Homo sapiens: one gene and its partners. The protein of the gene in region 4 purifies or fractionates together with the protein of the main gene of each other region. This does not show direct contact. Each region holds a gene or a part of one and is shown on either strand. Other genes may lie near its edges.

What was found.
Region 1: the proteins of INKA2 (region 4) and NOSIP purify together in Homo sapiens (affinity purification with mass spectrometry, with the first as the bait; one large-scale study listed by BioGRID). This does not show direct contact.
Region 2: the proteins of INKA2 (region 4) and YTHDF2 purify together in Homo sapiens (affinity purification with mass spectrometry, with the first as the bait; one large-scale study listed by BioGRID). This does not show direct contact.
Region 3: the proteins of INKA2 (region 4) and MYO5A purify together in Homo sapiens (affinity purification with mass spectrometry, with the first as the bait; one large-scale study listed by BioGRID). This does not show direct contact.

The regions. Positions count from the first base shown.
Region 1 is NC_000019.10:49,559,563-49,565,176, reverse strand, and holds part of NOSIP (nitric oxide synthase-interacting protein), read left to right. Parts: intron 1-886; exon of another isoform or gene 887-1,020; coding exon of another isoform or gene 1,021-1,022; intron 1,023-4,484; coding exon of another isoform or gene 4,485-4,485; coding exon 4,486-4,555; intron 4,556-5,137; coding exon 5,138-5,243; intron 5,244-5,272; exon of another isoform or gene 5,273-5,614. UniProt on the Homo sapiens protein: E3 ubiquitin-protein ligase that is essential for proper development of the forebrain, the eye, and the face. Catalyzes monoubiquitination of serine/threonine-protein phosphatase 2A (PP2A) catalytic subunit PPP2CA/PPP2CB.
Region 2 is NC_000001.11:28,742,598-28,748,211, reverse strand, and holds part of YTHDF2 (YTH domain-containing family protein 2), read right to left. Parts: coding exon 4,226-5,614; intron 1-4,225. UniProt on the Homo sapiens protein: Specifically recognizes and binds N6-methyladenosine (m6A)-containing RNAs, and regulates their stability. M6A is a modification present at internal sites of mRNAs and some non-coding RNAs and plays a role in mRNA stability and processing.
Region 3 is NC_000015.10:52,521,096-52,526,709, reverse strand, and holds part of MYO5A (unconventional myosin-Va), read left to right. Parts: intron 1-2,507; exon of another isoform or gene 2,508-2,528; coding exon of another isoform or gene 2,529-2,627; intron 2,628-5,614. UniProt on the Homo sapiens protein: Processive actin-based motor that can move in large steps approximating the 36-nm pseudo-repeat of the actin filament. Can hydrolyze ATP in the presence of actin, which is essential for its function as a motor protein. Involved in melanosome transport.
Region 4 is NC_000001.11:111,722,396-111,725,895, forward strand, and holds part of INKA2 (PAK4-inhibitor INKA2), read right to left. Parts: 3' UTR 1-3,500. UniProt on the Homo sapiens protein: Inhibitor of the serine/threonine-protein kinase PAK4. Acts by binding PAK4 in a substrate-like manner, inhibiting the protein kinase activity.

The DNA of each region.
Region 1 (5,614 bases), on a different chromosome or scaffold from region 4:
AGACTCCCAAGTAGCTGCGACTACAGGCATGCACCACCATGCCCAGCTAATTTTTCTATGTTTTGTAGTGACAAGGTTTTGCTATGTTGCTCAGGCTGGTCTCAAACTCCTGGGCTCAAACAATCCTCCTGCCTTGGCCTCCCCAAGTGTTCATATTACAGGTGTGAGCCACCACACCCACCCACACATAACTTCTGGTGTAGTAATTACTTTGTGAGTTTTTGAACGTCACATGAATGGGATCATACAGTAAGTTTTCTTTTGCGTGTCTGGTGTCTCGCCTGCGTGGTGTCTGTGAGATTCAGCTATACTATGGGTATGACAGTAGGCTGTTGTGTCTCATTGCTGGGTGTTTCCATTATGTGATATGGCCCAGTTTCTTTATCTACTCTGTGCTGACAGGCATGGGGTAGTTTCCAGTTTATGAGCCATTGTGAATAGGGCAGTGTATGTGTCTTGTAAACAGGTGTACCCTTCTGTTAGGTGTATACGTGGGAGACGAATTGCTGGCTCATAGGACTGGCATATGCCTGGCTTCAGTAGATACTGACAGTTGCTTTCCAAAGTGGTTGTGCTGGTCTGCACTCCCCTGAGCAGTGCACGAGGGTTCTAGTAGCTCCATGTCCTCGCCTGCACCCCTCTGTCTAATTGCAACCCTTGTGGTGCGTGTGGGGAGGTATCTCAATGAAGTTTTATTTTGTTTTTTTTTTTTTTTTTTTTTTTGAGATGGAGTCTCGCTCTGTCCCCTAGGCTAGAGTGCCGTGGCGTGATCTTGGCTCACTGCAACCTCCGCCTCCCAGGTTCAAGCGATTCTCATGCCTCAGCCTCCCCAGTAGCTGGGATTACAGGCGCACACCACCACGACCAGCTAACTTTTTGTATTTTTAGTACAGATGGGGTTTTGCCATGTTGGCCAGGCTGGACTTGAACTCCTGACCTCAAGTGATCTGCCCGCTTCAGCCTCCAAAGTGCTGGGATTACAGGTGTAAGCCACGGTGCTCGGCCTTCAGTGAAGTTTTAATGTGCGTTTCCCTGGTGACTATATTAGTTTCCTATCATTGTTGTAACAAATTACTACTAATTTAGTGTTGCAGTGTCACACCTCATGGAGCCTCTGGTGTACTTGTGAGAGAATGAGAATCAGAAAGGCAAATAATGTCTTAGTATTATTAAGACAACAGTTTTGACCTTGCAGACTGTCTAGAAATGTGTTGGGGGACCACAGGGTCCTAGGACCCACACTTTGAGAACCACTGATCTAGAAGAGTATTGGACTCTTATAGCCTAGGAACAATGGGAAATGTTTAAAAGGATTTCCTATCCATATTTTTTATTTCTTGCAGAGACATATAACAGGGTGATCACTAAAGCAAGTATTTTCAGGCTGGGCACAGTGGCTCACACCTGTAATCCCAGCACTTTGGGAGGCCGAGGCGGGTGGATCACCTGAGGTCAGGAGTTCAAGGCCAGCCTAGCCAATATGGTAAAACCCTGTTTCTACTAAAAATACAAAAAATTAGCTGGGTATGGTGGCATGCACCTGTAATCCCAGCTACTTAGGAGGCTGAGGCAGGAGAATTGCTTGAACCCAAGAGGCGGAGGTTGTAGTGAGCTGAGATCGTGCCATTGCACTCCAGCTTGGGCAACAAGAGCAAAACTCGATCTCAAAAAAAAAAAAAAGAATTTTCAAGCACAAAAGATATGATGTGCCAGGTGCAGTGGCTCACACCTGTAATCCCAACACTTTGGGAGGCCAGGAGTTCACTTGAGTCCAGGAGTTCAAGGCCAACCTGGGCAACATGGCAAAACCCCATCTCTACTAAAAATATAAAAATTAGCTGGGCGTGGTGGCACATGCCTGTAGTCCCAGCTACTCGAGAGGCTGAGGCAGGAGAATCACTTGAGCCCAGGAGGTCAAGGCTGCAGTGAGCTGTGATTGTACCACTGCACTCCAGCCTGGACAACAGAGTGAGTCCCTGTCTCAAAAAAAAAAACAAAAAGAAAAAACGATGTTAGATTAAAAATGGGTGGCAGAGAGGGAAGTGGAACGGAAATACAAGTTCAAAGAGAAAAACAGGACATGTATAATTTTCTGCTGTTGAAACAGCTTTTTCTTGCATTTTTCAAATGGTCTCAAATTATTACAGTATTTAGATTCCATCAGCTACACATTTACGTTGCTGGAAATTGTATCCTTTGCAACTGTTTAAGCTTGGGAGAATTTTTAGGTGGCAACTTAGAGATGAGTGAGACAAGTATATAATGTTACTAGATCTTCTCTCTTCTCTTCTTTTTCTTTTGACAGAGTCTCTGTCTGTCACCAGGCTGGAGTGTAGTGGTGCAATCTCCACTCCCTGCAACCTGCACCTCCCAGGTTCAATGAGTCTCCTGTTTCAGCCTCCCGAGTAGCTGGGACTACAGGCATGTGCCATCACACCCAGCTAATTTTTGTATTTTTAGTAGAGACAGGGTTTCACCATGTTGGCCAGGATGGTCTCGATCTCTTGATCTCGTGATCCGCCCCCGCCTCGGCTTCCCAAAGTGCTGGGATTACAGGCATCAGCCACTGCACCTGGCCATCAACTTCTTTGTTTTTAAATTTAATAGAGATGGATCTTGCTGTGTTGCCTAGGCTCATCTCCATCTCCTGGGCTCAACAGTCCTCTTGCTTCAGCCTCCCAAAGTTTTGGGATTACAGGCGTGAGCCCTGAGCCTGGCTCTAAATCATTTTAAGGGATAAAAAAGCCTGCAGGGGCCAGGCACAGTGACTCACGCCTGTAATCCCAGCACTTTGGGAGGCTGAGGCAGGTGGATCACCTGAGGTCAGGAGCTCAAGACCAGCCTGGCCAACACGGTGAAACCCCGTCTCTACTAAAAATACAAAAAAATTAGCCAGGCGTGGTGGCAGGCACCTGTAATCCCTGCTATTTGGGAAGCTGAGGCAGGAGAATCGCTTTAACTTGGGAGGCAGAGGTTTCAGTGAGCCAAGATCATGCTATTGCATTCCAGTCTGGGCAACAAGAGTGAAACTCCGTCTCAAAAAACAAACAAACAAACAGGCATGCAGGCTGTTTACTGGCCAAGCAGTCTTGGTGAAAGCTGCCCAGCCTCTGTGGGTTCAGGGCTTCTCCTTTTACAAATGAACTCCAGAAAAGTAGGGGGCTCCCTTCCTCACACCATACACAAAAATTAACTCAAAAAGTAAAAGTTAAAATGATCAAACCCCTAGAAGAAAACATAGGAATAAATGTGCATTATCTTGGCTTAGGCAATGTCTTTTTTTTTTTTTTTTTAATTGTGACAGAGCCTTGCTCTGTCTAGGTTGGAGTGCAGTGGCATGATGTCGGCTCACTGCAACCCCTGCCTCCTGGGCTCAAGTGATTCTCAGTGCCTCAGCCTCCCGAGTAGTTGGGATTACTGGCGTGTGCCACCACGCCCAGCTAATTTTTGTATTTTTAGTAGAGACGGGGTTTCACCATGTTGGCCAGGCTGATCTTGAACTCCTGAACTCAAGTGATCCACCTGACTCAGCCTCCCAAAGTGCTGAGATTACAGGCGTGAGCCACTACACCTGGTCTGAAACCACTTTAAAAGGGTTAATTTTATGGTATGTGAATTGTGTCTCAATAAAGTCATTTAAAAGGGTGGGGGTTGCCCTTAAGTATGGGGAATGATCAAAGGTATCAAAGTAAGGTGGCAAAATGTTGACAGCTGCTGGACCGCAGGACATGGGTACATCATGGGGGTTCCTTATACTATTCTGGTTTTGTATGTGTTTGAAAACTTACAGAATAAAAAAAGCTTTGCTTTTTGAATTGAGCTCCAGGGTTCTGGGGTCTTCTCTTCCTCCTTTACCTGCAGTGGGAGTGGAGGTAGCTCTTCCCCTAGACACAGAGCCCTACTCTGACCTGCCCTCTGATCGGTCGATCTGAGACATAATCACAGCTGCTAGATCCAGTCGCTAGTGGACTGGCAGGCAGCGATTGGGTCAAGCCTTAGCTAAGTGTCAAGCCTTAGCTAAGTGCCCAGCCTTGAGCCAATCACTGGGCTGGTCCACGCCTTGGCCTCAGTCAGAGCTTACAGATATGAGAGGGGAAGGGAAGGTGGAGTGGATTCATCAACAATAGTGGCCCCCTTGGTGTCTTTTTTTTTCCCCTCCATTAAATGGCACAGCCACCACCCTAGCTAATCTGAAGTAGTGGCTAGAATTTGAACTCTGGTCTCTCACCCTCTTACCTCCAAACAAAGAGTTTTGTTGTTAAAGGTGCTATTTTCACATATAAATGAGTCTAGGTGAGTCTGGAAGGAGGACTTCCTGGAGGAGGCCTGGCGACCACATGCCCTCCCTCTCTTCCACCTCACCCCCCTTCTCCGCCTCCGCTTTCCCATCAAGGGGGGCAGATCAGCTCTGAGGGCTGCAGAGGTCTTCCCTGTGCTGCCTGCCTCCGGTAACCACAGTCCTGCCACTGTCCCTTCCTCCCTAGGATGACGCGGCATGGCAAGAACTGCACCGCAGGGGCCGTCTACACCTACCACGAGAAGAAGAAGGACACAGGTGCAGGGCTGGGGTGGGAAGAGGCGGGACATGGCTGTGTCTTGGAGTCACCCTCTCCCCTCGTGCCCCAGGTTTTGCTTCCTCTGTCCCTGTCTCTCTCCCGCCCCCGATATACACTGATGGCCATGACCATGTAAACAACAGCTGGGTGATCCCATGACCCCATGTGGCCCGGCACTGTGTTCTCTGCCTTCTGCGCATGAACTCACTCCTCCCAACAGAGTGTCAGGGAGGGTGCTCTTGTTACCCCATGTTCCAGAGGAAGAAACTGAGGCCCAAAGAGGGACAGGCACTTGAGCTTGGTCACAGTCAGAAGGGTGGAGGGGAGTCAGCCGTCAGCCCCTCCACCAAGCTGCCACTCAGTGACCAGGCCTGTCTGCCTCTCACCCTCCAGGGTTGACAACTCCCTGTGGGTTCAGCCCGTGGCCCCAGCACACAGGCAGCGGCTCCCAACTGCCTGTTTCTCTCTGAGTCCCCCACCCCCACCACCGCGTTGTCTCTGTGCCTCTCTCTGGGGCTTTGGAGACGGACATGTCTCCTGTTGCTCCGCCCCTCCATCACTCTGCCCATCTCTGTCCCCAGCGGCCTCGGGCTATGGGACCCAGAACATTCGACTGAGCCGGGATGCCGTGAAGGACTTCGACTGCTGTTGTCTCTCCCTGCAGCCTTGCCACGATCCTGTTGTCACGTGAGCTGGGAACAGGGATGGGTAGGTCTGGGTGGGGAGAGCAAGGGAACCGCCAGGAGGAGGCTGTGTGCGTGGGTCTGGCCACCTGCACAGCCAGGGAACCCTGGATGAGCAGTTTATCCTCAGAGCCTCTGTATTCTCACATGGGACATGGGCATGATCCTAGCATCTGTTTCATAGTGTGGAACATATGGAAAGGAACATACTTCTAATGGGGTGTAGGGCTCTCAGAGCATTGCCGAGGCCATCGGAGCAGCTCACCTTTGGACACTTCCCATGACCTACCTCTGATGGTAGGGCAAAGGCTTAACAGGTGCTGAGTCCAGGCACTAAATACGTGCTCAATTAGTGGTATATTTTGTAGAAGACAG
Region 2 (5,614 bases), about 83 Mb from region 4:
AACTAAAATGGTAACTGGGCTTAGAAGCAATCATAGGCATCTTCCTGAAATCCCAGCAGTTCTTTTTTTTGGTTTTTTTTTTTTGAGATGGAGTCTCGCTCTGTCGCCCAGGCTGGAGTCCAGTGGCGCCATCTTGGCTCACTGCAAGCTCCGCCCCCTGGGTTCACGCCATTCTCCTGCCTCAGCCTCCCGAGTAGCTGGGACTACAGGAGCCCACCATCACACCCAGCTAATTTTTTGTAGTTTATTTAATAGAGACGGGGTTTCACCATGTTAGCCAGGATGGTCTTGATCTCCTGACCTTGTGATCTGCCCGCCTCAGCCTCCCAAAGTGCTGTGCTTACAGGCGTGAGCCACCGCGCCCGGCCAGTGCCAGCAGTTCTTACAAGAGAGTAAACTAAAAAGTAACCTGACAGAAGTATAATTGAAGCCTTTATTTGGTGGTTTGCTCACCGGCTGAGAACTAGGATACTCACTTATCAAGAGTCTTTATGGGCTGGGCGTGGTGGCTCACGCCTGTAATCCCAGCACTTTCGGAGGGAGAGGCGGGAGGATCACAAAGTCAGGAGATCAAGACCATCCTGGCTAACACAGTGAAACCCCTGCACTCCAGCCTGGGCGACAGAGTGAGATTCGTCTCTCAAAAAAAAAAAAAAAAGTCTTTATGGAATGGTTTTTTTTTTTTTTTAGACAAGTTTTGCTCTTTCACCAGGCTGGATTGCAATGGCTCAATCTCAGCCCACTGCAAGTAGTAGCTGGGATTACAGGCACCTGCCACCATGCCCAGCTAATTTTTGTATTTTTAGTAGACACAGGGTTTCACCATGTTGACCAGGCTGGTCTCGAACTCCTGACATCGTGATCTGCTCGCCTCGGCCTCCCAAAGTGCTGGGATTACAGGCATGAGCCACCGCGCTGGGCAATGGTTTTTAAAAAGAGCCATTAGTTAGCTTACCAAAGACGCTAAATTCTGTTTACTATTGCACTCATTCTATGAAAACATTAAAAGGCTGGTCAATTCCAACAAACGAATCTTACACCTACATATCAAGTTCAATTATCATTAACTGAACCACTCTAGCAAACATAATCAAAATACATACTTGATTAAAAGCTGAATTTTTTTTTTGAGACAGAGTTTCACTCTTGTTGCCTAGGCTGGAGTGCAATGGCACCATCTCAGCTCACTGCAACCTCCGCCTCCCAGGTGTAAGCGATTCTCCTGCCTCAGCCTCCCAAGTAGCTGGGATTACAGGCATGCACCATCACGCCCAGCTAATTTTGTATTTTTTAGTAGAGACAGGGTTTCTCCATGTTGATCAGGCTGGTCTCAAACTCCTGACCTCAGGTGATCCGCCCACCTCGGCCTCCCAAAGTGCTGGGATTACAGGCGTGAGCCAGAGCCTGGCCAAAAGCTAAATTAACAAAACCTAAATTTGCTACTTGTTTGTTTAGACAGAGTCTCTCTCTATCGCCCAGGCTGGAGTGCAGTGGCAGGATCTCAGCTCACTGCAACCCCTGCCTCCCGGGTCCAAGAAATTATCCTGCCTCAGCCTCCCAAGTAGTTGGGATCACAGGTACCCACAACCACACCCAGCTAATTTTTTTTTTTTTTTTTGTAGTATTTTTAGTAGAGACGGGATTTCACCATGCTGGCCTCAAACTGCTGGCTTCAAACTGCTGACCTCAAGTGATCGGCCCGCCTCTGCCTACCAATGTGCTGGGATTACAAGCATGAGCCACCTGCGCCCAGCCTGCTACTCCATTTCTAAACCCATATTTCTTCATCTGGCCCCAGCAATGCAAAATTGAAAAGAAAATCACCCTGTATTTCCCCACTGGCCCTAACACATACAAGTCTATCTTAACAACTATGCTGTGCATTAAATTCATCATTTCCTTCCTGCTTTTAATCACAAGATGTAGGACAGAATTTTATTATAAAGATTAATAAGATAGTACACATTTCAAGTGGACAAACCAAGCACCTAGATGCCCCTCAGACGTCTATAAATCTGCTATGCTACTAAAAGATGCCTAAAAGATCATGGCCTCCTTACTTGTCCCTCTAGAAACAGAAGCCTGATGACCATTTAGAGCCCTTCAGATGTCTAGCAAAAAGCACCAATAAACTATCTTTTTCTACAAAATACTGTAAATTTTATTTATTTTTGATACAGAGTCTCACTCTGTTGCCCCTGCTGGAGTGCAGTGATGCAATCATGGCTCACTACAACCTCTAACTCCTGGACTCAAGGGATCCTCCTTCCTCAGCCTCCAAAGTAGCTAGGACAACAGGTGTGTGCCACCATGCCCAGCTAATTTTTTCTTTTTTAGAGAGATGGGGTCTCACTACATTGCCCAGGCTGGTCTTAAACTCCTAGGCCCAGGCAATCCTCCTGCCTCGTCCTCCCAAAGTGTTGGGATTACAGGTGTGAGCCACCACGCCAGGCCAAAATATGTTAGTTTTTTTTTGGGGGGGGGGGGCGGGGGGAGATGGGAGTTTAGCTCTTGTTGCCCAGGCTAGAGCACGATCTCGGCTCACCGCAACCTCTGCCTTCGGGGTTCAAGTGATTCTCCTACCTCAGCCTCCCAAGTAGCTGAGATTACAGGCATGTGCCACCACACCCGGCTAATTTTGTACTTTTAATAGAAACGGGGTTTCTCCATGTTGGTCAAGCTGGTCCTGACCTCAGGTGATCTGCCCACCTCAGCCTCCCAAAGTGCTGGGATTATAGGCGTGAGCCATGACGCCAGGCTTAATATGGAAGACTTTAAGTTAAACTATTAAACTGTGGGGAAGAGAGGAGTTTAAAGGACTATCAAAAAGGAAGTTTATTAGCCAACTTTTCAATAATCTGGTTCTCCATTCCCAATGCTTTTAGTGTCACTGACAAGTGTAACTCCCATTTCTTATTAATCTGTACCCACTGAAAGATAAAATAGCAACCATCCCTACTTTAACAACTATGTACCTCCAAGAAGATTGTACCAACGAGCCCTTCCTCCACTGCTAAAAGGAGTAAATTCTCATAGAGCAGCCTAACAATGCCTCAGATCCTAGATCACGTATAAGATCCCTATGAATTCATAACAAATTTAAGGAAAACATTGCTTGTTAGACTTTATTTTATATTTGAGATTAATCAACTCAGGATTCTCTCAACCACTAATACACAGATCTTCAAAGAAAAATTTCTCCTTGCTCATAAACTTTTCACCTACTTCCTACATTTAACAATGTCTAGGCCAGCTGCAGTGGCTCACACCTGTAATCCCAGCACTTTGGGAGGCAGGGGCAGATCACTTGAGCTCAGGAGTTCAAGACCAGCCTGGGCAACATGGCAAAACCCAGCTCTACAAAAAACATGAAAAACTAGCCGGGCATGGTGGTGCATGACTGTGATCCCAGCTAGTCACGAAGCTGAGATGGGGGGATCACTTGAGCCCAGAAGGTGGAGGCTGGAGTGGGCGGACATCATGCCACTGCACTCCAGCCTGGGCAACAGAGAACCCTGTCCAAAAAAAAGTAAGTATAAATCCCAGATAATATATCATTATCTGCTCCAACCAGTTTTATCATCCTCTTATAATCCTAAAGTTTACATTCACTCAATACTCACAGAGCAAACGCTACCAACTCTTTCAAATTCAACTCTAGTTTGAATCCATTCCTCATCATTCTGCCCAAGATTCCCACTTGTTACAGAGGAAATCAGAAGTGACTCTTTTACACCGCCAATTGTCACAGGGAAGACAGAAGTGATTTCAAGAGTTGGTGATGACATATTGACTCTTGAAAATAACCACAAAACCCCAGCTAGGCCAAGTTAATCCAACAGAGAACATTTCGATTTTTCTCTGCCATATTATAGACTCAATCTTCTGCTTTAATTTCTATGGTTTTATCACTTCCATTACCCCTCTGCATCTCTTTGACTCATTCTTCACCTCTTTCTGCATCATGTACTGTTTCTGTCTGATTTCCTTGTACTGTTTTTGCTTTCCTTTCAAAGTCCGTATTTCTGTCCTCTACTAATGTTCTCACATTCCTTCACATTAGGGTTCAAGTATTAAAACCAATTATACTTCTATAAAGCCTTGAACTGTTAGGTGATACTGTATTCATTTACAGAGTTTTTATTAACGGTTCACTATATAATACCTCTTCTGTTCTCTCTGGTTCCTCCTTCCCTAAAAATCTTAATAAGAAGAAGTGGGTTACCTTTTTAACACTTTCTTCTTCCTCTTGGCGTTTCTCATAGTGTGAGAAGTCATCAAAAATGGAAGTGGTGTGCTTGTAGCTGGCTATAATTTTCAACACCTGCTTAGCCTTTTCCAGAGGCACTTCCTGAGTGTCCCTAGAGTTGGTCACTGGTTTATTCTCGTTGTTCTCTAGGCGAATGTGTCGCAGTTGGCTATTGGGAACGTCCTTCACAAAAATCCACCTGACATCAAAACGACCCTTCCATTTGTCCTGGGACCACACACCTGCACATGTGTTGTAGTCCACAGCAGATTTCATTTCTGCCACGCCACAGAAGTGTCCACTGCCGTTGACACTGAAAAGTAAGTAAACGGGGCCTTTCCCGTTCATGGAACGATAAGCAGCATCCAGTCTCTTGTTACCATGCTCTGTGCTGCACCAAATATTATACTTAATGGAACGGTGAATATCGTCCTCAGAGTAGCTCTTAATGATGAAAACCCGGCCATGTTTCAGATTCCAGTCAAAATCTTTGGGGTTATAGTTATTAATGGACCGAAGCTTCTCCAACACTGGGTGGGGTTCTGAAGGAGTAGATCCAGAACCAGCCTGAGACTGTCCTACTCCATTACCATCCACCCCATTATGACCGAACCCACTGCCACGGTTCCGAGGTGCTACCCAGCGGGTTGGCTGAGCTGCCTGTTGCTGGACTGAAAGCTGGGCAGGCTGTGGTGGAGGTGGAGGCAATGGCTGTGTCTGTTGCCCTACTGATGCCTGAGCCACTGGTGGGCTATTGTTAGCCTGCTGACCTACAGGCTGAGGAGACCCCTGGGTTGGCTGACCTATATTCTGAACCAAAGCCTGTGAGGGGGCTTTTGCAACGGGACCCTTGTTATCCCAAGTTCCAATATCCATGTTATGCTTTATCGGGGGTGGCGGAAGACTTGACCCTGCAATGCCATTCTTGGTCTTCAGTTTAGGTTGCTGTTTTGCAGGCTTGCTAGCAATATCAGCCCAAGATGCTGGTTTTGGAGGAGCAATGGTGGCTGGAGGCAAACTATTGGAAGCCACGATGTTACTAGTAATGGACCCGCTACCAACAGCAGAACCTACAACTTTTGGAACATTGCTTGCAACTTCTGTGCTACCCAACTTCAGTGCTGCCATCCCTTGGTCTATAGTATTCATGCCAGGAGCCTTATTGAGGGTCTCATTGGCAAAAGCTGACTGTCCATCAATCATGGCTCCACCTAAGGAGCTAGGTGCATAAGCATAATTGCTACTATATCCAGAGCTCTGAGTAGACTGTCCCTGAGAACTGTTATTTCCCCATGCTGAGAAGTCAATCCCACTGGGAAAGAAATTAAAACCATGCTGACCAAGAAATGGAGTGCTACCTAGGGC
Region 3 (5,614 bases), on a different chromosome or scaffold from region 4:
AACAGCCTGAGGAACATAATGAGACCTGGTCTCTACAAAAAAATTAAAAAGTTAGGCTGGGCACGGTAGCTCACGCCTGTAATCCCAACACGTTGCCGAGGTGGGTGAATCACCTGAGGTCAGGAGTTCGAGACCATCTTGACCAACATGGCAAAACCCCGTCTCTACTAAAAATAGAAAATTAGCTGGGCGTGGTGGCGCATGCCTGTAATCCCAGCTACTCAGGAGGCTGAGGCAGGAGAATCACTTGAACCTGGAAGGCGGAGGTTGCAGTGAACCAAGATCGCGAGCCTGGGCAACAAGAGCGAAACTCTGTCTCAAAAAATAAATAAATAAATAAATAAAAATTAGCTGGGCGAGTTAGTCACGCCTGCGGTCCCAGCTACTCGAGAGCTGAGGCAGGATGATCAGCTGAGGCAGGAAGATTGCTTGAGCCTGGGAGGTTGAGGCTGCAGTGAGCCATGACTGTGCCACTGCACTCCATCCTGGGCAAAACAGCAAGACCGTGTGTTGAAAAAAAATTTTTTTTAACCTCTTTGTCATTATAAAGACAGACTGGCTTAGAGATCAAGACTGAAGTTGGGGCTTACACTGCCTTCTTCTAAATATACTTATGCCTAATTAATAGTCTGGTTACTTGGTTATTTGTTGGCAAATTCTTTTTGTGAATGGGCCTTAGCTTAATGGCAAGCAGAAATACTTATCAGGCATCCTGTGTGCCAGGTACTTTGCTTAATGTTTAGAGGATTTAACAATGAACAAGATACAGTCCTTTCCCTCAACACGCTCATAGTCTGCTTCTTACATTCTTGACCCACTTTGAATCTATAGGGGCATAAATAACCTGCTGTTACCTCAACAGCAGGCAGACAGCTGGTATGATATTTATTAGTAGAAGTTAGGGAATGGGTTGGGACATGGGGAAGGTTGGGCTGATTCCAGAGATAAAAACTACTATTGTAATTACTAGAGGAATAGGAAAATCATTAGAAGTATTATCAGTGGATAAGCACAAGGATCTTCCCCTTGCAGAGGATTATAGGAAGGAAGTTCTAGGATAGATTACAAGGAAAGATGTATTAGTGATATGCCATAATTATGGTATTTAACATTGTGGTTAAATCTGAAAAGTGCTCTTTAAAAAAATGTCATTCAGATCTTAAGGGCAGATTTTAATGTGTGATACAGATCAGTTCCTATTACAGTGAAGGACAAGAGACTGTTCAATTTCTTCTTTTTAGCCAGAATGGTAATGGTTTTGTCACAGCAATTTAACAAGGCTTCCATTTTGTAAGTTTTTCCAGCAGTATAAACATTTTAAGGACAATAGCTAGGTTCTTGGGATACTTGTCTGGAAACGAATATTTTGGTTAAAACATGTTTTGTTGATTTTTAAAAATAACAGCTTTATTGAGATATGTGTCTTATACCATATAATTCACCATTTAAAGTGTACTATTCAATGGTTTTTGGTTTATTCACAGAGTAGTATGTTGATGTGTTTGTGGTCAACCTGCCTTGCTCCCAAAAGAATTAAAGGAAACTATGATATCTCATTGCTTCTGATTTTGAAAATATTTGCTAGTCTTGACTTGCCAGTGGATATCTATATCATACATCATCCATAGGTGCTTTTGGTAACTAGAAGCAATTCTACATTTGTGGAGTAGGGTTTATCAATTAGACCTAGAAGGATTATCGGGAACATTATAATGAATGGCATGCTATTCCTCCTGTCATCATGTTCCCAGACACCATGGATAGCACCATGGTATCCATGCTATAGGATGGTCAAGATTACTTGAAGCTGGGTTTTTTTTTTTTTAATTTTTTATTTTTTTTGAGACAGGGTCTCACTGTGTCACCCAGGCTGGAGTGCAGTGAAATGAACATGGCTCACTGTAGCCTTTAACTCCTGGGCTCAAGCTGTCCTCCCACCTCAGCCTCGTGAGTAGCTGGGACCACAGCTATGCACCCAGCTAATTTTTAAATTTCTTCTAGAGATAGTCTCAGTATGTTGCCCAGGCTGGTCTTAAACTCCTGGACTCAAGTGATCCTCCTGCTTCCACCTCCCATAGTGTGGGATTACAGGCATGAGCCACCACACCCAGCCTATTTTATTTATTTATTTATTTATTTATTTATTTATTTATTTAGGTTCAGGGTCTCACTCTGTTGTCCAGGCTGAGGTGTAGTGGTGTGAACATGGCTCATTGCAGTATCGACCTCCCAGGTGCAAGCCATCCTCCCACCTCACCTTCCTGGGTAGCTGAATCTACAGGCATGTGCTACCAAACCCAGCTAATTTTTGTACTTTTTACAGAGACAGGATCTTGCTGTGTTGCCCAGGCTGATCTCTAACTCCTCAGGTCAAATGATTCTCCTGCCTCGGCCACTCAAAGTGTTGAGATTACAGACATGAGCCACCATGCCTGGCTTATTTTTAATTTTAAAAAAGTTTTAATTTTTTTGTTTACTTTTGTGTTTTGTTTTGTTTTTACCTGAAGCTGTTTGATTAGGAGGTTCCCATGTGTGCTGAGATGCTGAGTATTGTAACAGTGCAAAGACAATCTAAAATTCCACATTTGCAAAGCATGTTAACTTGCCTAGATGAAACAGCTCTTAAGGTCAGTAGATTGTATATGTGTAACTTTCCATTCCCAACATATCCTCTCATATATACAGGAGCCACATGGCCTAGATTTTTTCTGGGATAGATCCACTTTTATATTCTATGGCACTGTCTCTTCAAACTACTGATCTTGGAAATTCTAATATTTTCATGTCGAGACTGTATTTCTCAGACTGCTTCCAACATCTTAAAGAGGAACAGAAATCTCATCTCTGATCATGTGCCCTGACTTGGAGTTTGGCAAGGATGTTAGCTGTCCTCAAGTCTCCTGTCATGCCCTTTCCATTTGAATTTCCTCCTGGTGTTCCTAGGCCTGTTAACGACTTGCTGTTCTCCTAGTTCCGCAGCTTGGAAACCTCCGTATCTTTTTTCTTGTCTTTCACATTCGACTTCTTCTATATCAATTCTAATTTCAGTTGACATCCAGCTGATAGCTCAGATTTGGAACTCCCACTAGTACTCTTTTTCTCTGTCTTAATGTCCCAAACATGTTTCTGTCTTATTACGGTTACTGTATTTGTGTATATGTTTACCACTCCCACGATACTCTAAGCCCCCTGACATGCTGTTTTGTTTACCTCCTGTAGAGCCTAGCCCAGTGTTACACAGAATAGCTGCTCATTGAATATTTGTTGAATGAATACTTAAGCAGGGGAGGGATGGAATGAAAATAATGGTTTGGCATGATCAGTCCACTTGTAGGGACGAAGCAGGGTATAAAGATGTGGTTAAACAAGTAAACACATTTTCAGGCATGTTGAACAGGATGAGTAATAGAACTGGGAACCAGGGAGACCAGGAAACTTTCAGGAAACAAAATGTGAAGTGGTGAAGGTCTGGTGGACTGAGGCAGGGGCAGAAGGTGTGGGAAAGAAGAGGATAAATCCGAGAGACAGGTCTCTCCGAGATGGATTACATATAGGATGGGAAGGAGCAGGAGTAGTATGAAATAATGCCAGTAGCTCCAGACTTGGAAACTGAAAATTAATTCCTGTTTCATCACAAATTTTGACTGCCTCTGTGGAACTTGAATGCTACTAAGAAATACTTCTTTACATAGCTTGACAAAGCAAAATGCCCATTATTTCCTCTTGAAATTTGTTACTGTTTCTTGAAGTGTGAAAGTTTTGTGTATTGTCCAGAAAAGATTACAGAGAGATTCTGATTCTAATGAGAATTGCTGCTGCCACATATTTTAGATCTTCCTGGTACTTTTAGCTTTTTTTTTTTTTTTTTAAATAATGAAAGAGAACTGGAGGAAGCTTTATGAATGGGCTTCCAGGGATTTAACTGTAACCTCAGGGGAGGGGTGACAGGGAATGCTAACTCGTGTATGGGAGAATGTGGGAGAGGAGAGATGATCCGCCTTACTTCTTACCTCAGAAGGTAATTTAGTTTCTCTGTTTTTCATTTTATGATGAATTTTGCCTCCATTGGGAGAATTCAGGAGTACGTGGTCCACTAGAGGATAGACTTGGATGTATTTGTCTCCACTTCAGGCAATTCCCAGTGAAGTATGAGGTACTGTTGGAAGTCTAAACTTCTGATCTGTGGAGTAAGGTCTGGCCATAGACAAAATATTATGTGAGCAATTCCACTTCTTCCACCTCACCTGAAGGCATGTCCTCCATCCTACAGTGGTCTTCCTAGACTTATTCTATTTATCTTCCTAGGGAGTTTGTCCTTTTCTCCCCAGCACCACCCCACTCCCAATCTTTCATCAACTTTATTGAGGTATAATATACTTGAAAAGTCCCTCATTTTAAGTGTACAGTTTGATGAGTTTTGACACATATATTCTGTCATGTAACCACCGCCACAAACAAGATGCAGAACATTTCCATCACCCCAAAAGTTCCCTTGTGCTTTGTCTCTTATCTTCCCCAACATCTTCAGGGAGTTTACTGGAGTTATGCTTGCTCATTAGGGCAGAAGGAAGTTTTTTCTTTTTGGTTTTTCCGAAATGAATGCTATGGTTCCACCTTAGCCCAACCAATAGAGATACTTATTACAAAGGCCTGGCATTGGAGATCATGGCTGTGGAGTTTCATTTTCAGTGGGAGGCGGAAGTGGATATAAAAGGAGTTTAGATGATTTTTGTTTAATCTTTCCTTCACACACTGACCACTTTGCCTTTATTAATGATGTCTGCCTTTGATGCCTTCTGAAATGCCCTTTGGTTAATTTTGCCCTTTAACGGTTCCTCTTCCCCATCTGTCTTGGTTGTAACATCAGTCTGAGTTTGTGCTGATACAACCTAAACTTTGCAGAAACTTATCCCTGGCTCTTCATGCCTCAGGCATTCTCCATTTCTCTTCTAAGCCCTCCTCACTTGGAATTCTTTTTAACTAGCAGGCATTAGCGTTAAATATCTCCTTGTACAGCAAAGGCTTTTTGCCAATTGTAGAACTTAGGGATGATGTAATTATTTTTTGATTTCAAAATAATGGTTCTAAACTTGATTGAAATCAAGGGAGAAGTGCATTGTACATAATGCACTAAGTGTTCATGAGGACCATGTATCTACCTCCTGTGGCCTAATGTACTACTGTGGCCAAAAATGTGGGCAAGATGCTGGGCTAGAGGGAGACTGGATGCACAAAAAAGATAGGTTTTGTCCATCTTTTGTCACATATACAAAAACATATAGTCCTGGCCAGGAATCCTGCATGTGTGGTTGGGGTTTCTACTTCTTGACAAATGTACATGAAACTAGAGAAATTTCAGAATAGGAGAAGTAAAATGATCAGGGCAGTGAAGAGGCTAGACAGATTAAAGGTGTCGAACTCTCTAGTTTAGAAAGATGAAGGTGAGCTGGGAATACAGTAGAGGTTTTTTTTTTTTTTTTTTGAGACAGAGTCTCGCTCTGTCACCCAGGCTGGAGTGCAGTGGCGTGATCTCAGCTCACTGCAACCTCTGCCTCCTGTGTTCAATCGATTCTTCTGCCTCAGCCTCCCGAGTAGCTGGGACTACAGGCATGTG
Region 4 (3,500 bases):
TTACAGAGCAGAAAGAGCAGACCAGAGGCTTCTCAAAACCACTAGGACTTGGCACTTTCAACTCTTTACCCCTTGCCAAGAATTTGAGGTCCTTAAGGGTTGACTGTGAGGGGCAGCTAGGGTGTAGGGAGTGGGAATGTTTCCTAGAGCAGGTCCTTAGGCAGTGGGGTCCTCAAGCACCTTTTCTCCAAGCTCAGCCTTTCTCCACCTCCACACCCCCCGCCTCCCCAGTGCATGTCATCCTTTGGGGAACAGTGTAAATTTGCCATTTAGCAAATAACAGCCCATCTGGGTGGCTAGTATACAGTGTACAAAAACATGTCACCTATTGTCTTCTCTGACCCTTGCTACAATCCTGTGAGATATTAAATCAATATAAATGTTTCGACAGAAGAAGAGACCAACGCTCAGAGAAAGCACTTTTTCTTAAGCACTTTTGCCTTGGGTCACATGGTTAGTGCCTCTACTAAGGGGATGGGTTGTCCAGTATCTGCTGAGCTTCTGCTGTATTCCAGGCAGTGCTTGGACCGTAGGTGCATTATGTCCTTTAAATCTCACAGCAGCCCCACATTATCACCTTTCACAGATGAGAAACACAAGGTTCAGAGAGATCAAGCAACATGCTCAAGCTTCCACAGTGACAGAGGGGGCTCTCAAATCTTAACTCCAAGTCTAGTGCTCATACCATGGTGCTGGCAGAAGTGCCTTAACTGCACCGGATGGGGAAGGCACCTGAGGTGGGTTCTGGCTGCTCTGGAGAAGGTGGGGACAAGGTGTGCTCTTGCTCTTGTCCAGACCACGTAGGAAACGATGGTGTGACTTGGGAAAGATGGAGGAGCCTCTCCCCAACAAGGCCCTAGGGAGGAGATGGGGATGTGGAGAGGACAGAGCAACCTTCTTTGGGGCAAGTTTGGGTTCAGAGATCACCCTGAGGGGCGGGGCACAAGGGAAGTGTCTGAGGGAGAGGGAAAAGAGAGGTCCCAAGTCTGAAAGGTTGGGAAGAGAAAGGGAGGAGGGAGACCAGGCCGGCCCCACTAGCATGCCCAGCAGGGACTCTTTTCTGTTCCCTGGGCCACAAAGAAGCAGGTGGAACCTTCCACAGATACCTGGGCCAATCAGGTGGCCCTTGTACCTGCCAGGGAAGTGGGGCAGGGTGGGGTGGGGCTACATGTCAGGGAGGATATTAAATGAGCTTCTAGCTCATTTGCATGTCCTAATTAACCACAAAGTGCGCCCCAGAGGAAGAACTAAGCTCTCTGATTTCTCTCTGCTTACGTCTGCTATCTCCTCCACATACACACTGCTTACCTCTCCCTACACCTTCCTGTATACTTAGGCCCTAGGCATTTGCATTCACCTCTTCCCTCCACTTCAGTAAAATACAGCCTCTGTCATTGCCATGGCAGGTGTCCAGGGGGAAGGGAAAAGTAAGTCTCCATCAGACAGTCAGCATGCCATTTATGATCCACGCAGGACCATGAATAATATGAGAGGACAGATTTTGCTCTTGTTCCTCTTGATTTGGCTTTGGAACAGATATGGACAATTAGTGGGATCGTCTGAAAAGCACAAGATTGCAAGTCAGTTGGAACTGATTCAATCTCAATTCCACTACTGTGTGACCTTGGACAAGTTGCTTAACTTCTCTGAGCCTGTCCATGTAAAACAAGAGCAACTGCTTTCAGTGTGTAGTGAGAAGGAAGTAACAGAGGTGAAGGTGCTGGCACTTGTAAATCATGTTGGCAGCAAGTGTTGCTTCCTAATTTTTTGTTCTGGCCCAAGTTGAAACAAGTTTTCAGTCTCCCAAGTCTCTTCTGACTAACCAATGGTTCAAAGTCTGCTTATTTTCCACTGCATCCATTTGAGAGCAGGAGTTGGGTCCTTCTCATTGCTCTGTTCTTAGTTTCTATAACAACACCTGGTGCTGGGAGGTGTTCATAAAGTTCTGTTCAATTTATCCGAACCACTGTGACCAGTCCACGAAACACGTGAGTTATAGGTGAATGTCCAAGAAGTACCTTGGTTTCCCACAGACTCATTCCAGACTTGGAGCTGGTGTCATCTTGAATAATATGCTAGATGGCTTCTCCACCAGCCAGTGTCCCACGACTTCCTCCGCTCATGATTCAGTAGGTGGAATCTTAACATGCAGTTTCTTAGCACGCGCAGGCACACACACACACACACACACACACACACACACACCACCACTACCACCACCACCACCACCACCTCCACCATCTCCACCTCCAAAGGCAGTCAGAGCCAACGTTCCCTCACTCAAAACTGAAATGTTGGTATTCTCTGGGAAGACACAAAGGATTTGCAGTGGCTGGCTCCACCAGAGTGGGCTTGCTCAGTTGGCAAACTCCAGGTAGAGAAATAGCAAGAAAAGGACAGGGGTTTTGGAGCCAGATAACCCAACCCTCTGTTCAAATCTCTGTCCTTTCCTTTGCTAGCAGCCTAATCGGGGCAGTTTACACGCCCCCTAATAACCTCCATAGATGTGTCTGGAGAACAATGCCTTCTAGGGTCCTTCTAAGTTTGAGAGATGTGCACATTACCTGACAGACAGTGAGTGCTCAACAAAACCCAAAAAGCATGAGCGCCTTCCTCCCTCCTGCAGCTCCCCCACCAAAAATGAAACATCTTACCATTTGACTGGGTAGGATTTGAGAGTGACCCTAACCACCGCGGCTGCGCCCCCATAATCCCATCTTGAGCTCTGCCCCTCTCTCCACTCTCCCCAGGGATCCAGGAAGCAAGCAGAAGAGCCTTTTCTTACTATTTTGCCTCTCCAACTGGCTATTAATGCTTTGAGGGTGGGAAGGAATCCTGCCTCTAATTGCAGCTGTCACACCCCATCAGGCTGAGGGACAATCAGTGGGAGGCAGAGAGGGGCAGTGGGAGGGTGTGCCCTCCTGGCTTGGTCAGCCCAAAAGAAGATCCACATTGTCTTTTCCCAGCCAGTGAGTGTTCCCTACTGGAGTGGGAGGGACAGTGGCTTCCCAGGGCAGTCCTGGGGGGGGGCCTGGATCACTAGGTGGCCCTCCTGGGCCACGTGCCCAGAGTGGCTTTAGAGAAGCCGGAGCTGAGCTGCTGCCTGGCCCTTCCCCCTCCGTCCCGGCTGCCTCTAGGTGAGGAGGGAACAGGAGGCCTGGGACTGCTGTGTCTAGTGGGGAGAAGGCCACGGAATGGAGCTGGGAATTTTAAAATCAAGTGGCTATTTCTTCTGGGTTCACTTCTACCTCACTGGTGAATTGGCTGTTCTCTGACCCAGGTGGGAGTTAAGTGCAGGAGACAGGGGTTGTGGGGTATGGGGCCCTACGAACTGTTTTTTTTTATTTTTTTTGAGACAGGGGAGTCTTGCTCTGTCAGCCAGGCTGGAGTGCAGTGGCATGATCTCGCCTCACTGCAACCTCCCTCTCCCGGGCTCAAGCAATTCTCCTGCCTCAGCCTCCCAAGTAGCTGGGTTTACAGGCGTGTGCCACCACGCCTGG